Homo sapiens: one gene and its partners. The protein of the gene in region 3 purifies or fractionates together with the protein of the main gene of each other region. This does not show direct contact. Each region holds a gene or a part of one and is shown on either strand. Other genes may lie near its edges.

Region 1 (3,654 bases), on a different chromosome or scaffold from region 3:
TGTCTACTACTGAAGCTTCTGCCTCAGAGCCCTTACTTGCTTTTCTGTCTGATCAGAATACTCTTTCACCTCAAAACTTTCTGGCTTCTCCTTTAAGCATATTCAAGTCTCTGTTCAGTTTTAGAGAGGCCATTTCCAACCACCCTATTTAAAATACTATTCTAGGCCAGGCGCGGTAGCTCACGCCTGTAATCCCACTACTTTCGGAGACCAAGGTGGGTGGATCACTGAGATCAGGAGTTTGAGACCAGCCTGGCCAACATGGTGAAATCCCATCTCTACTAAAAATACAAAATTTGCCAGGCGTGGTAGTGTGTGCCTGTAGTCTCAGTTACTCGGGAGGCTGAGGCAGGAGAATCACTTGAACCCAGGAAGCGGAGGTTGCAGTGAGCCGAGATGGCGCCACCGCACTCCAGCCTTGGTGACAAAGTAAGACTCTGTCTCAAAAAAACAAACAAAACACTGTTCTATTTTTTTCTTCTTGTGCTGTCTTGCACTGTGTCTTATATATTTCTGTTTACCTGTCACTTTTACCCCCAGGAATGTGATGTCTAAGAGGATGAATTTTAGCTGTTTTGCTCATGGCTGTCTATTCACAGGCTAGAAGGTATTGTTCTGGTACATGGCAGGTATCTAATTATTTGTTATCCTGATAAATAAATTAATGGATGAGGGGAACTTCAGTGTCTCCAGGAATCATGGAGATAGATAGCTAATAAGTGATACACAAACTAGAGTGAATGAGAGCTATTGCAGAACATGTTTCTGTCTTTTGATGGCTGCCTATCTAATTAGAACTTTCTTAGGATTCCTTGTTGGGATACTATTTTTAGGTATGTGCAGTTCACCTACATCCCATGGAAACTTCTAAGTGTTCTTTTTATGGCCACACTGAGTATTATGCCTTCTCTCTGACTTGTCTTGGAGCTTTATGTTTTTATTTTTATTTTTTAAAAATTTTCCACAAGTTATTGGGGTATAGGTGATATTTGGTTACATAAGTTCTTTAGCGACTTGTGAGAATTTGGTGCGCTCATCACCCGAGCAGTATATGCTGCACCATATTTGTAGTCTTTTGTCTCTCGCCCTCCTCCCACTCTTTCCCGCAAGTCCCCAAAGTCCATTTCTCTCTTTTTTTTTTTTAAGCAGAGTCTCGCTCTGTTGCCCAGGCTGGAGTGCAGTGGTGCCATCTCGGCTCACTGCAGGCTCCGCCTCCCAGGTTCACGCCATTCTCCTGCCTCAGCCTCTCAAGTAGCTGGGACTACAGGCGCCCGCCACGATGCCCTGCTAATTTTTTTTATATTTTTAGTAGATACGGGTTTTACCGTGTTAGCCAGGATGGTCTCGATCTCCTGACCTCGTGATCCACCCGCCTCGGCCTCCCAAAGTGCTGGGATTACAGGCCATTGTCTCATTCTTATGCCTTTGCATCCTCGTAGGTTAGCTCCCACATATCAGTGAGAATATATGATGTTTGGTTTTCCATTCCTGAGTTACTTCACTTAGAATAATAGTCTCCAGTCTCATCCAGGTTGCTGCAAATGCTATTAATTCATTCCTTTTTATGGCTGAGTAGTATTCCATTGTATATAATACCACAGTTTTCTTTATTCACTCGTTGATTGATGGGCATTTGTGTTGGTTCCACGATTTTGCAATTTTGAATTGTGCTGCTGTAAACATGCATGTGCAAGTATCTTTTTCGTGTAATGACTTCTTTTCCTCTGGATAGATACCCAGTAGTGGGATTGCTGGATCAAATGGTAGTTCTACTTTTAGTTCTTTAAGGAATTTCCACATTGTTTTCCATAGTGGCTGTACTAGTTTACATTCCCACCAGCAGTGCAGAAGTGTTCCCTGAACAACACATCCATGCCAACATCTACTGTTTTTTTGATTTTTGATTATGGTCATTCTTGCAGGAGTAAGGTGGTATCGCATTGTGGTTTTGATTTGCATTTCCCTGATCATTAGTGATTTTGAGCTTTTTAAAATATGTTTGTTGGCCATCTATATCTTCTTTTGAAAATTGTCTATTCATGTTCTTAGCCCACTTTTTGATGGGGTTGTTTGGTTTTTTTCTTACTGATTTGTTTGAGTTTGTTGTAGATTCTGGATATTAGTCCTTTGTCAGATGTACAGATTGTAAAGATATTCTCCCACTCTGTGGGTTGTCTGTTTATTCTGGTGACTGTTCCTTTTGCTGTGCAAAAGCTCTTTAGTTTAATTAGGTCCCAATTATTTATCTTTGTTTTTATTGCATTTGTTTTTGGGTTCTTGATCATGAAATCCTTGCCTAAGCCAATGTCTAGAAGGATTTTTCCAATGTTACCTTCTAGAATTTTTATAGTTTCAGGTCTTAGATTTGAGTCCTTAATCTATCTTGAATTGATTTTTGTATAAGGTGAGGGATGAAGATCCAGTTTCATTCTCCTACATGTGGCTAGCCAATTATCCCAGCATCATTTGTTGAAAAGGGTGTCCTTTCCCCCACTTTATGTTTTTGTTTGCTTTGTCGAAGATCAATTGGCTGTAAGGATTTGGGTTTATTTCTGGGTTCTCTATTCTGTTCCTTTGGTCTATGTGCCTATTTTTATACCAGTACCATGCTGTTTTGGTGACTATGGTCTTATAGTATAGTTTGAAATCAGTTAGTGTGATGCCTCCAGATTTGTTCTTTTTGCTTTAGTCTTGCTTTGGCTCTGCGAGCTCTTTTTTGGTTCCGTATGAATTTTAGCATTTTTTTTCTAATTCTATGAAGAATGATGGTGATGTTTTGATAGGGATTGCATTTAATTTGTAGATTGCTTTTAGCAGTATGGTCATTTTCACAATATTGATTGCACCCATCCATGAGCATGAGATGTGTTTCCATTTGTTTGTGTCATGTATGATTTCTTTCAGCAGCATTCTGTAGTTTTCCTTGTAGAGGTCTTTTGACTCCTTGGTTAGGTGTATTCCTGAGTATTTGATTTTTTTTGCAACTATTATAATAGGGGTTGGGTTCTTGATTTGATTCTCTGCTTGGTTGCTGGTGGTGTGTAGAAGAGCTACTGATTTGTGTACATTAATCTTGTATCCAGAAACTTTGCTGAATTCTTTTATCAGTTCCAGGAGCTTTCTGGAGGAGTCTTTAGGATTTTCAATGTAGATGATCATATCATTAGCGAACAGTGACAGTTTGACTTCCTCTTTACCGATTTGGGTGCCCCTTATTTCTTTCTCTTGTCTGATTGCTCTGGCTAGGACTTCCAGTACTATGTTGAGGAGTGGTGAGAGCAGATGTTCTTGTCTTGTTCCAGTTCTCAGAGGGAATGCTTTCAACTTTTCCCTATTCAGTGTTATGTTTGCTGTGGGTTTGTCATAGATGGCTTTTATTACATTGAGGTATGTCCCTTGTATGCCGATTTTGTGAGTTTTAATCATAAAGCGTTGCTGGATTTTGTCAGATGCTTTTTCTACATCTATTGAGATGATCAAGTGATTTTCATTTTTAATTCTGTTTATGTGGTGTATCACATTTATTGACTTGGGTATGTTAAACCATCCCTGCATCCCTGGCATGAAACCCATTTGATCATGATGGATTATCTTTTTGATATGTTGTTGGATTAAGTTACCTAGTATTTTGTTAAGGATTTTAGCATCAATGTT
Region 2 (3,654 bases), on a different chromosome or scaffold from region 3:
TATATATGAAGATGTATATTTCCTCAGTCTCATTTATAATAGTAAAACTTGGTACAAACCCTAAACGTCCAAAAAAAGAGAAATGGTCAAGTAAATAGAGGCATATGTAAAAAATTATGCAGAGGGATAAATGAATAAATGATGAATGAATGAATGTGCTATTGTTTATTCATATTACACAATAGCATATATATATGTTAGATCTACATAGGTACACGTTTAGATAAAACAGGCAAGCTGCAAATATATATAATTATGCAAGTTTTTAAAACAATTCTAACATGAGTTAATATTTGGAAAAAGTTACAAAATATATATGAGAATAATACCCTCCAAAATTGGTGACCAGGTACCAGAAGAAAGGGGGTAGGTAGTCAGGGGGTTAGACTTTAGTTGGTATTATTTATTCATGCACATAATTGTATTTATCTTTCTCTAAAAGAGAACTGAAGCAAAATGTAAAAAATGTTAAATCTAGATCATTAATAAGATGGTTATCTATTTTATAATTTTTGGTACTTTTCAGGTTATTTAAAGACACTATTAAGACAGTAAAGATGGATACGCTAATTACCCTGATTTGATAATTACACATTGTATACATGTATCAAAATATCACTCTGTATGCAATAAATATGTACAATTATTATATGTCATCTAAAAATAAAAGTGGTGGAAAAAGGGCAAAACAAGGAGTAGACGATACTTGCAACACTAATATCTGACAGAGAATTAATATCCAGAACATACAAAGAATTTTTTCAATGACTAAAAGGCACATGACCTAATAGAAAAATAAGCAAAAGATTTGAGTAGGCATTTCATAAAGAAGATATCCACATATCCAATAACTACACAGATAAGTACTAAACCAGAGTTGTCATTAGGGGAACACAAACTAAAACCACATTCTACTCCACAAGAATGGCTACAATGAAAAAGACAGAATTCCAAACATTAGCAAAAAAGAAAAAAAACACCAATAACATTGCTGGTGGGAGTATAAACTCGTATTAAATACTTTGGAAAGAGGTTTGGCAGTACCTACAAAAGCTAAATATACATACACCTTAGTGTTCAGAGCAGCACTCTTTTTTATTTTTTAACTTTTATTTTGGGTTTGGGGTACAAGAGAAGGTTTGTTACATAGGTAAACACGTGTCATGGTGGTTTATTGCACATGTTATTTCATCACCCAGGTATTAAGTCCAGTTATCTTTCAGTTAGTTATCTTTTCTACTCTTCTCCCTCTTCCCACCCTCCCCACTCAAGTAGATCCCAGTGTCCGCTGTTGCCTTCTTTGTGTTCATAAGTTCTTATCATTTAGCTCCCACTTGTAAGTAAGAGCATGTAGTATTTGGTTTTCTCTTCTTGCATTACTTTGCTAAGGATAATATCCTCCAGCTCCATCCATGGTCCCGCAAAAAAGATCTCATTCTTTTTTATGGCTGCATAGTATCCCATTGTGTGTTTAAAACAGGAAAAGTATAGCAGTCAAATTACTGAGCAGAGGAAAATGAAAGAACTGGATTCAAAAAAAAAATTTTCATCGTTATAAAAATGTTTAAACATACAGAAAAACTGAATACCCATATACATAGTGTCTAGACTCAACAACTGTTAACATTTTGCTCAAACTGCTTTTATCTGTATCTGTATGCATATGTTAAAATTTATTAATTTGCATAAAGTAAAATTCTTCTTGCCTTTTCTAAAGTATCAGATAAATGGAGTCATTCAATACATAATTTTTTAAATCTGGCTTCTTGCATTAAGAACAATGCATGTGAGTTGCATCCAAGCATGTATCAATTAAGAACCACACTGTAACTGATACAAAGGTAATCTTTAATTCAAAAGGCTTTATTATTATTAGGTAGATCTTTTTGATCAGTTAATAAAGAGATAAAGTTGGTCTGCCACAATGGTTTACTCCTGTAATCTCAACATGCTGAGAAGCTAAGATGGGAGGATTACTTAAGGCCAAGAGTTTGAGAGCAACCTTGGCAACATACTGAGATCCCATCTCTACAAATAAATGAAAAAATCAGCCAGGCGTGGTGGTGGCATGTGCCTGCAGTCCCAGCTACTCAGGAGGCTGAGTGAGCAGGAGGATCACTTGAGCCCAGAAGGTGAAGGTTACAGTGAGCTATGACAGTGCCACTGCCCTCCAGCCTGGGTGACTGGCTGGCTCACTTAAATGTAATTTTTTATACACCTCAGATATACGATCAATGAGGAAACAAGAAGACACTTTTATATTATTTTTCATCCTAAGGGCAGAAAACCATATTTTTAGCATGGTATGACCCAAGTAAGGAAATTATTTAAAGCATTAATTATACTGTTTGCATTCTGTGGCTCTTTAAAACAATGAGGTACATTCCCTCTTTTAGAGAAATAAGTTACCACATAATACAGTCACTGTTACACAAGTAATAGAATATAATTTTATTCCTACCTGATCATCATCTTCTACAACCACCAAGGTTAATTTATTCTTCTTAAAATCCAATCTGGTTATCTTCGGCCTATAATATAATAAGAGAATAAAAGCCAAATTACAAACAAATGTTCTCTAAATATGAAAAAAATTGTTTTTATTTCAAATACATTTAACCATCTAACTCCTGAACTAAAAATTGACAGGACGGTAAACGTAACTTGCAATGCCCATCAAAAGACAGGAAACAGAAAAACACAGTACATATTTCAAAAGCAAATCTCAGACAAAATTGAGGTTGCACATATCAGACATTAAAAATGTTAAGGAAAATGAAATCTATGTATTTGATAGGTCTCGATTATGGTGTAAGAGATTCTTTAGGTCTAGGGAAAATTGTTCCAGTGTTAAAGCAGAGCAGCAGCATAGGAACTAGACATAGGAACGACCATAAAGCTTAAAAAAAACAGCCATAAAGAAAAACACTGACGATGGTTTTCAACTCTTTTTGTTTGTTTGAGATAGGTTCTCCCTCCATTACACAGGGTGGACTGCAGTAGTGTGTTCACAGCTCACTGCAGCCGTGAACTTCCAGGCTCCAGTAATCCTCCTGCCTCAGCCTTACTCCCACACCACACCAGGCTAATTTTTGTATTCTTTGTAGAGACGGCATCTCGCTACGTTGCCCAGGCTGGTCTCAAATTCCTGGGCTCAAGTGATCCGCATACCCTGGTCTCCCAAAGTGTTGGAATTCAGACGTGAGCCACTGCAACCAGCCTCAACTCTGTTTTCAACAGGAATTTTGGGTAGAGGAAATACTTCTTAATTTTTTTAACCTCGCTTTATGGCCCGCTTTCCAACTGTATCTCCCTACTTGTAAATTCCAAACCACCTACCACACATTTGAACTCTGTATTTCCATAAATTGTGAATGTCGAAACAATGTGACACTCCGATTGACTAATCTTTAAATATAACATATAAAATAGATGTAAAACATAACTTTACAAGAGCTTTACTAAAACAATAATGAAGAAATAATAGCAGGAAAAAGAAAGGAAACAGAATCTCACTCTGTCACAAAGGCTGGAGTGCAGTGGCGTGATCTTGGCTCACTACAACCTCCACCTCCCAGGTTCAAGCAATTCTCCTGCCTCAGCCTCCAGAGTAGCTGGGATTACAGGTGCGTGCCACCATGCTATGCCTGGCTA
Region 3 (3,654 bases):
TTGCTGACGGGCAGAAGTGCAATGCACACAAACCCTGATTTATGAAGATCCCTTGGGGATCCCTGGGGTCTTACCCTGGGGAAGGTGTGGATTAGAGGTGTGTGGCAGGGAGAGGGGCCTGGAACACGAGGCCAAAAGACTGTTACCAAAAACTGAGCCCCACAGGGCCCACTCTGCCCTAGGAGCCCAAGGCCCAAGGAAGCTGAGAAGAGAAGGCTTTTGTTTTCTGTTTTGTTGTTGTTGTTGTTGTTGTTGTTTTTTAATTATTAGATGGGAGGGCCCAAAGAATACCCAGGAGTCTTACCCCTATTGGACCATTGGCTCATTCTTGAGTCTACACTTTCCCCTCCCTCATATACTGAGAAAAATATCACCTTTTCTTTATAACAGCGGTTGAGGAGAGTGCCAGGAAACTAAAGGTATTGAGGGGAATTCAAATTCTGTACCCACCCCCACCCTGCCTCGTTTTGTCAGCTGGAAAATGTGCTGGGTGAGACCCTTCCCTTTCTGAGGCTACCCACTCCCTGCATGACCTCCTCCAGCCCCATACCTGCTGTTGTCCCAGCACTGCCCCTGCCTCTCAACCCCACCCTGGGAGCTCCTCCCAGAGCCCCTCTGGCTTACTTACCAGTGTGACTGCGCTTGTGCACCATGAGCACGTTGGGTCCAATACAGACCATGCCGCAGACGTCACACTTGAGCTTGCCATTGGGCAGCCGGATGCCCCCAGGGGAGTGAGGCTCTGGCCCACTCCCATCACAGTAGCCCAGGGGCTCAGACAATGAATCTTCCACAATCACGCTGTCGTCCTTTTCCAGGAGCCGCTCATCTGGCCCCAGCAGTCTGCTTGACTCCTCATCGCTGTACATCTCCACCTTGATGGAGTTGGCTGAGGGGTGGGATGGTGTTTAGAATAGAGAGAGGCAAAGGGGGAAGCTGCTCCCAGGCCAGAATGGCACTCTTTTTTTTTTTTTTTTTTTGAGATGGAATTTCGCTCTTGTTGCCCAGGCTGGAGTGCAGTGGCACGAATTTGGCTCGACGCAACCTCCACCTCCCAGATTCAAGTGATTCTCCTGCCTCAGCCTCCTGAGTAGCTGGGATTACAGGCATGTACCATCACACCCAGCTAATTTGGTATTTTTAGAACAGACAGGGTTTCTCCATGTTGGTCAGGATGGTCTCGAACTTCCAACCTCAGGTGATCTGCCTGCCTTGGCCTCCCAAAGTGCTGGGATTACAGGTGTGAGCCACTGCGCCTGGCCCAGAATGGCACTCTTAAAGTTTAAGAGGGTGTCTTTAGGCCCTGAGACATTCAAGCCTTAAATGGAACTAACACCCTAGTATCCCTGCTGCTGATATCAGAATCCTACTGGAACCTGAGACAACCTTTTCTCCCACCCACCAGGCAAATAGGCTTCAAGAGAAAAAAGTTGGGCCGGGTGTGGTGGCTCACGCCTGTAATCCCAGCAATTTGGGAGGCCAAGGCGGGTGGATTCTTTTGAGGTCAGGAGTTTGAGACCAGCCTGGCCAACATGGTGAAACCCTGTCTTTACTAAAAATACAAAAATTAGCTGGGCATGGTGGTGTACGCCTGTAATCCCAGCTACTTCGGAGGCTGAGGCAGGAGAATCGCTTGAACTTGGGAGGCGGAGGTTGCAGTGAGCTGAGATCACGCCACTGCAGTCCAGCCTGGGCGACAGAGCAAGACTCCATCTCAAAAAGAAAAAAGTTGGGGGTACATAGGATGTCTTCTGTCGCTGAGGAGAGGAGGCGACTAAGGGGAGCTTTTTTCTCTACTCTCTTGTCATGAAGAAAGATGTCTGGCTTGGCCCTGGGCAGGAAGCCAGCAAGTTAACAGTGGCGGGAAAACAGATCTAGGAAGACTGAAGGGGGACAACAGGCCAAAGAGAGCAAACCTGGAAGACAGACATGCTTACAGTTCCCTCCCACCTCATTAGATTGAATCCCTCTACCCCCTCCACCTCCATAAAACTCTGAGGCAGGGCAGGAGGGGTAAAGGAAGGAGGAACCATTGAGGAGAAGGCTTTGGCTCTAGCTCCGACCTACATTCCTGGCTACTCCAACCATTTAGAGAATGTCACAGATCTAGGGCCAGCTGGGGAGAGGCAGTCATGGGGACCCTGTCTGGGTAGGAGAATGAGCTGTGGGGAGATGGGGAGGTCCTTCTACTCTCTATTTCCTATCTAACTCCATCTGATGACCATTTCTATCTACCTGCTTCTCTAATTCCATAATTTCTCTTTGAAACTTTTACCTTAATCCCACCCATACCTCTTTTAATTCCACCCTAGTCTGCCAGTGACTGACTATTCACTCTCCTTTCAGAAGCCAGAAAAACCCTAGACACTGGGCTCCTCATTGCTCTTAGAGACTAAGCAGGAGACCAGCAGGAGGTGACGATGGGGAAATGGTTGCCAGTGGAAGGTGAATTGAAGGCCAAATGCAACAGGGGGTGCCTACTGCCAGGAGGTGGTAGGAGGTTACACTTACCACTGAGTGAGCGGCTAGGAGAAGAGTGCTGGCTGTTGGGGGTGCTCACCGAGGGCCCCACTGGGGCCCCGAGGAACTCCTTCTCCAGAGATGAGTCCCCGCTACCTTGGAGGAGAGAACAAGAGGGCAGGTAAAGCTGGAGCTGGAGATATCTACTGTCCATTGCCTAATCTTTTAAAAAAATTCAGTTAAATTTCACAAACATTTCCTTCATAGCCATGTACAAAGCAGTGTTGTATGCTGGGCACCATACCTTGTGCCCCCGCCAGTCTGGATGCCTGGTGCTGCCTTCTGTGAGCTCAGTGGCTGGGCCTTGCCTACCCTACCTTTATCTAGGCCTGAGGGCAAGAGCATCACTGCCTGACGTCCACAGGAAGCAGGGCTGAGGCTGGGTGCGCCAGGGCGGAGAGGAAAATGGGGGCTGCAGAAGGGACAGATGTTCAGGACAGACATTCTTCCCTACTGTTCCTCTCTGGAGCCCCCAGCCGGTTCAGGATCTGCAGGAAAGGTAACTGGAATTGTCCTTGAATCTAATGATAATATTAGTAATCATCATAGCAGCTAATAATATTAATTGAGTACTTACTATGTGCCAGGCTTTATTCTGTGCACTTGAAATGAATAATTTCATTTAATCCTCACAACAACTATATGAAGTAGGTGCTAATATCATGATTTTTTCAGATGAGGCAACTGAGGTACAAAAGAGGTTATGTTAGTTGTCTAAGGTTACATAGCTGCTAGTGTGGAACTGGGATCATAGACAGTAAGCGTCCATGTCCTTAACCAGCACCTACACAGCCAATTGGTGGTCACAATCTTAGTAGGGAAGAATTGGGCCTCTTAGACTTTCTAAATTCAGCAAAAATTTGATTACTCTAGAAAGTCTCCTACTGATCTGATTCCAATCACGTGTTTACTATTTGATATTCATTGACAGTTAAGTGATCAACTTATTCTCAGTATATTTGTTTTAATTTTCTGATAAATTGCTTTGTAAAAATGCTTTTTGAGGCTTTCATAATGTTTTTCAAAATCAGATAACATACCTAAAGGAAGATATGAATGTCTTTTTTAAAAAAATCCCTCCTCCCCACAATCTTCTACACAAATATATAGGTGAAATAAAAATACATGTAGATA

The links.
Region 1: the proteins of IKZF4 (region 3) and ZNF225 purify together in Homo sapiens (affinity purification with mass spectrometry; one large-scale study listed by BioGRID and IntAct). This does not show direct contact.
Region 2: the proteins of IKZF4 (region 3) and EPB41L5 purify together in Homo sapiens (affinity purification with mass spectrometry; one large-scale study listed by BioGRID and IntAct). This does not show direct contact.

The regions. Positions count from the first base shown.
Region 1 is NC_000019.10:44,119,773-44,123,426, forward strand, and holds part of ZNF225 (zinc finger protein 225), read left to right. Parts: intron 1-3,654. UniProt on the Homo sapiens protein: May be involved in transcriptional regulation.
Region 2 is NC_000002.12:120,086,048-120,089,701, reverse strand, and holds part of EPB41L5 (band 4.1-like protein 5), read right to left. Parts: intron 2,532-3,654; coding exon 2,462-2,531; intron 1-2,461. UniProt on the Homo sapiens protein: Plays a role in the formation and organization of tight junctions during the establishment of polarity in epithelial cells.
Region 3 is NC_000012.12:56,024,016-56,027,669, reverse strand, and holds part of IKZF4 (zinc finger protein Eos), read right to left. Parts: exon of another isoform or gene 2,675-3,654; coding exon of another isoform or gene 2,617-2,674; coding exon 2,512-2,616; intron 890-2,511; coding exon 629-889; intron 1-628. UniProt on the Homo sapiens protein: DNA-binding protein that binds to the 5'GGGAATRCC-3' Ikaros-binding sequence. Transcriptional repressor. Interacts with SPI1 and MITF to repress transcription of the CTSK and ACP5 promoters via recruitment of corepressors SIN3A and CTBP2.